Linked DNA regions of Homo sapiens: region 2 is linked to region 1. The links come from fine-mapping of genetic effects on gene expression. A gene starts in region 1. The other region holds a variant in brackets. All regions are shown on one strand. Distances are between the middles of the regions.

The links.
Region 2: its variant is fine-mapped to the expression of TNFSF13B in whole blood (TOPMed, PIP above 0.99).

What each region holds. Positions count from the first base shown.
Region 1 is chr13:108,267,898-108,270,819 of GRCh38, forward strand. TNFSF13B (TNF superfamily member 13b) reads left to right here and starts at 1,821. Exons shown (of 6, transcript NM_006573.5): 1 at 1,821-2,337; 2 at 2,443-2,527. The coding sequence starts at 1,999. RefSeq lists enhancers at 1,857-2,286, 2,238-2,746 and a silencer at 2,647-2,726.
Region 2 is chr13:108,336,956-108,339,877 of GRCh38, forward strand. All of the region lies in intron 2 of LOC105370355 (a long non-coding RNA gene), which reads left to right. Among named protein-coding and RNA genes, the nearest start is that of TNFSF13B, 69 kb to the left of the region's middle. The variant A/G (reference allele first, on the strand shown) is at 1,701.

The DNA.
Region 1 (2,922 bases):
AACATACTTGCACACACATGTTTATGGCAGCACAATTCACAACTGCAAAAATATAGAACCAGCCCAAATGCCCGTCAATCAATGAGTGGATAAAGAAACTATGATACATATATATGATGGAATACTACTCACCCATAAAAAGGAATGAATTAATGATGTTCGCATCAGCCTGGATGGGATTGGAGACAATTATTCTAAGTGAAGTAACTCAGGAATGGAAAACCAAACATTGTATGTTCTAACTCACAGTGGGAGCTAAATTACAAAGATGCAAAGACATAGGAATGATCTAATGGACTTTAGGGACTCAGGGGAAAGGGTGGGAGGGGGGTGAGGAATAAAAGACTAAAAAATGGGTTCAATGTGTACACTGCTCGGGTGATGGGTGCACCAAAATCTCACAAATCACCACTAAATAACTTAACCATGTAATCAAATACCACCTATTCCCCAAAAACCTGTGGAAATAATTTTTTTTTAAATGGAAGCATCCAAAATGTAATTTGTTTCCACATTCTTGTAAGCCTCATTATGTATCCCAGGGACAGTTAATATCGTCATACGAATTCACAGGTGAGGAAATGGAATCACAGAGAGATTATGTACTTTGCATAAGGAGAGCGAGGGTGAGGCAGGATTTGCAGTCTAGAAGCCTGGGTCTGGAGTTCTCCACTTTGCACTATATCATTTCTGTAAACTTCTTACTTAAGACTGTGTGGAAATGTAGAGTGAGACAGAACTAAAGCTCACTATTCTTAGTCCACAGGGGAGTAGTGACTACCCAGGGCTTGGTAAGTGCTCAGTAACGTTTGTTGAAAGATGAATCAATATTTCAATGCTGGGGCAAAGCAGTGAAAAACTGGGGAATGTCCAGGAACCAGCCATCAGGATAAGGCAGGACTAGAATGAATGCAACAGTCCTCACAGGTCCACCAAGTCAACAACAGAAAAATCCAAAGCTAAGGTGGCTCTTGTGTGATCAAGGACCTCTTGTACACCGACCTGTTAGGCTGTGGCACAGTCAACATGGGAGTTGTAGACAAGCTACTTGAGAGTGGTTAATGGTAGCAGTCAGGCATTTGGAGCTGGAGGCAAGGCTGATTCTCCTCAACTAGTATCATATTGAGCGGGGACTTAAAGCCTCAGAAGTCTGAGCAGAAAAGCTGAGACCAGGCTCCTTGGGACAGGCTGTTCATATGCATGATTGAGTTTCAGTGATGAGTCCCAGAAGGAAAAAGTTTATGCATGTTTTCCTTAAAAATATATTCACTTATATTTAGAGAATCCTTCAGATATCTAACCTAAATACGTCTGTAACATTTACTCTCATTCTTTTTATGACATTATTAGTATAATAATATGAATAATTCCCAGTGGACTTACTTCCACACTTCCTTCAAGGATTCTCCATTTTATTTCATAATTGAAGACTGTTAATAAATCACTCTCTAGCTAAGAACAATTCAATGCTAAAACACTTAGCTTATCTGACCTTCACATTAATTATTTTTATGACAGCAGCAGGAACTTTCAGCTGCTTTTCCCCCTTCCTTATGAAGCCATGTGGTCCCAAGCAGACAGAGTTCCCTTGCTACACTTAAGGGTGGGCTTCTCAGACCTGAGCATATCTTAAAAGCTTTCCCTTGACTGTGCCAATCCAAACTCCAAGTTTCCTCAGCAGATTTAAGGGGTTTTAAATCTACTTGAGCATGAGTGTTATGAGAAGACTTTGAAATTCTTACAAAAACTGAAAGTGAAATGAGGAAGACAGATTGAGCAATCCAATCGGAGGGTAAATGCCAGCAAACCTACTGTACAGTAGGGGTAGAGATGCAGAAAGGCAGAAAGGAGAAAATTCAGGATAACTCTCCTGAGGGGTGAGCCAAGCCCTGCCATGTAGTGCACGCAGGACATCAACAAACACAGATAACAGGAAATGATCCATTCCCTGTGGTCACTTATTCTAAAGGCCCCAACCTTCAAAGTTCAAGTAGTGATATGGATGACTCCACAGAAAGGGAGCAGTCACGCCTTACTTCTTGCCTTAAGAAAAGAGAAGAAATGAAACTGAAGGAGTGTGTTTCCATCCTCCCACGGAAGGAAAGCCCCTCTGTCCGATCCTCCAAAGACGGAAAGCTGCTGGCTGCAACCTTGCTGCTGGCACTGCTGTCTTGCTGCCTCACGGTGGTGTCTTTCTACCAGGTGGCCGCCCTGCAAGGGGACCTGGCCAGCCTCCGGGCAGAGCTGCAGGGCCACCACGCGGAGAAGCTGCCAGCAGGAGCAGGAGCCCCCAAGGCCGGCCTGGAGGAAGCTCCAGCTGTCACCGCGGGACTGAAAGTGAGTTTGCAGCAGCTGCAAGACGCAGGCAAGATCCTGCCTACACTGCTGCCTCTCCCTCGCCTCAGCTGTCTTTCTAATAACTTGAAGTTTTTCTGTTCATAGATCTTTGAACCACCAGCTCCAGGAGAAGGCAACTCCAGTCAGAACAGCAGAAATAAGCGTGCCGTTCAGGGTCCAGAAGAAACAGGTATGTTTTGGGCACAGACACTTTTAGGAGTCAGGGATTAGAGAATAACATCCAGTCTGGGGGAGCTGGAGGTGAGTATCCCCTCTATGAACCTATTAAATAGAGACTATGAAATTTGCCATCCAAAGCAGACATTGCTTTAGAGCAAAGCCCCAGCGCTGGCAAATGTAACAGGCTGCATGGGTGTGCTTTTTCCTCCAATGAGCAGATCGTGTGACTGGAAGCATTTCTCTGTGCGTGTGTAAGTATTTATCTGTGCATTAAGCATAGAGGAGATAAAAGGGCCATATGTGTTTCCTCAGGTAGATAATGCCCTCCCATGTGAGAAGCATTATTCATCACTCCAGAAAAATAAAAAAAAGCATTACATGTTAGAATTAGACTTTGCTTACTAC
Region 2 (2,922 bases), 69 kb after region 1:
GTTTAATAGGTCCTGAGCCCTAGAGGCAGCCTTTTTGAATTTCGCTTACTTTTGTTTGAACTGGAGTAGCCATGCATCACCAGGAGTAAACGAATTCATCTGTATTGTGAATTGTATTAATAAAAAACCATGGAAATGGTAGAATTTTAATGATTAGATTACTATTATCTAGAAATATTATAACTTTAATGATTGTGTTATTTTATTTATCTTAAAGTCTCAAATCATCATTTTCTTTTAAATTAATGCACCAGACCAAAACAATGTGATGAATCAGGGAATATTTGATATTTTAAGGACCATCCACATTTTACACTTTAACTAGAAAAAGCTTTCTGTAAATCTTCACCCACACACTTTTCTTTGAACTTACCAGCTATGAATTTATAATTGCGGAGAAGCATGTATATGTATCTAAAATGGCAGTTGGGGTGGAATAATTTGTATTTGATTTTGATTAATTTCAATTGGACACCAGTATTTTTGCTTATATAGGAAATTACTTTCTTGGCCATGAAGATTTTGCACATCTCTCTAATTGGAGTCCCTTAACCCTTCCTCTGAAATGGCACAGGGCTTTACTTTTACATATTCGGTGTATCTTATGTGCTTGAAGAGCAGCTTTCTATCCTGACAGCAGCGTGGGAGCTAGAGTCCAAGGAAACTGGTTTGAATTCCAACTGCGCTCATTTTAGATCTGCATACTTGAGCAAGTGCTTAAATTTCCTGGGTCTCAGTTTCCTGATCTGTGAAACAGGGATGCTAATTTATAGGAGGGTTGGTGTGCAAATGAGAGACAAGCTGATAAAACACGGAGTTCGCTTCCTGCCCACAGTGGTCAGGCAATTATTTTGCCGATGCGTCTGCCTCTGTCACTAGACAGGTGCTGATCAGGGTAAAGGCTATTTCTGTCTCGTTCACTTTTCTGTCCTCATTCCTTAGCACAGTGTTTTACTTACAGAAGAGATCAGTTCATGTTTCTTGATTGAGAAAATTAAATAAAGCCCATCATAAACTCTAACAAGAAAATCCAAAAAGGTGTGAAATTCCTACTTTCTTGCCCTACACCAATTTCTTTCTATATGTGATGCTAGTTTGTAAATAGATGAAGGCACTTACATTACACATTAGCTAAGGTCTTATCTAGAGGGTAAAATAATTTTCACATCTCAAGTAAACAGAGAGAGTTGAAATGGCCACAAAGAATTTGTTGTGCATTCTATGTTGTTTCCTATATCCATAATTCTCATTGTGTCAACACAGTGGTTCAAAAGAGCTTGTCAATAAGCTTAGTAAATACTCCACATAAGTTACAATTCAGATAACAAAAAGTTTGATGTAAAGGTGCTATTTTTTCATTTCTCATGAGTAGTCATTGTGAGAGATTGTGTCTTCTGTTTAAAATGTAAGACTTATTTTCTAATACCATGCCTGTATGAATTTAATAAGTACAATTATTTCTCCCATGCCGGTTCTTGGATTCAAACATCATAGAACATGACTAATTAATGAAGTAATGTAATTGGCTACATGTTTTAATTAAGAAGCTTGGGGCACATGCACTTTGCTTTTTTTCCCCCATCTATAGTTTATATATTTTTTCCTTTGGAGATGTATGATAAGGATGAGAGTTGCCTGTCAGAATGAGAGTTGGAGAACTTCTGCTTACAGAAGTCAATATTAAGTGTCTACTAAAATCG[A/G]CTAGATCTCTACCAGACAAAGCTTCAGAATAAAATAAGTGATAATAACTACAAAAGCTGGACATGAACAAAAGCCGCAACCAGGATGCCCTGGAGGGTGAAGAGAAGCAGACAAATCCCCAGGGGAGAGCAGGCTTGCTCAGAGAAGGGGAGGTAGAAACTCCTTAAGTTATGTGGGAGGGTGGCAGGGGGGCTGAGGCTGGAAAATTACCTGTTGGGTGCAATGTTCACTATTGGGGTGATGAGTACTCTCCAAGCTCAGACTTCAATATATCCGTGTAACAAAACTGAACTTGGACATATTTCCTAAATCTATACAATTTTTTTGAAAAAGAAACTCCCTAGGTAATTTTTCTTTGGGGGTTGTGGGGCACATGTGAAAAAAATCTAGCATCTTTCTGCTAGATAAATAAGAAACCAGAAAAGAGCTATTGAAGAAACTAGGAAATTCTCAAAGGAAACAACCCAAGAATGGATGTCCAAAATCAACGTACCCACAGCTCTGACTGACCCCCGAAACATGCATAGGAAGAATAAACTCAAAGTATATCAGCTAAGGACAAAATATCTGGACTGAGACCAGAACTGCTGCCCAAGAAACTGAGTTTTCAGTTCATACCAGCTAACAAAATTTTATATAATTACTGAAATATATAAATCCACATACCAAAACTGTAGATGCTTTTGTATGTAACTATTACATGTATACAAAAAGAAATAATGAAGGTATGAGGATCATTTAAGTTATAATACTAATTTAAGTATAATTGTAAAAGCCGTATCATTTTGTCTTTTTAGATTTTCATTGCTAGTTGTTGGTAGATTTAAAATTTGTGAAACCATCTTTATTTCTCTCTGTATATGTATTTTTTGATTTATTTATGATTAGCATAATTGTAAAAAACATTTAAGCTTTGCTCACTCTCTTAGATTTTGAAGAGCGCTTCAGTATTTTGTATTGGCATATCCAATCATTTACTTCATCACTTAATAAATTAAACCTTTCCTGAGATAGATATACATCTGCTGGAAATGGGCCTAAATGAAATTGGCAACTCACATGTGTCATATCATTTTTTACGCACTTCAGTAGTTACTAACAATTAGAGGTAGGCAGCCCACCCCTGCCCCAGCAAACTGTCTACCAGGAGGTGCACTGCAAAGACGAGTATTGCAATCTGCATACAGACATAAAACCAATTCTCCATCCTTTTGTGTACTT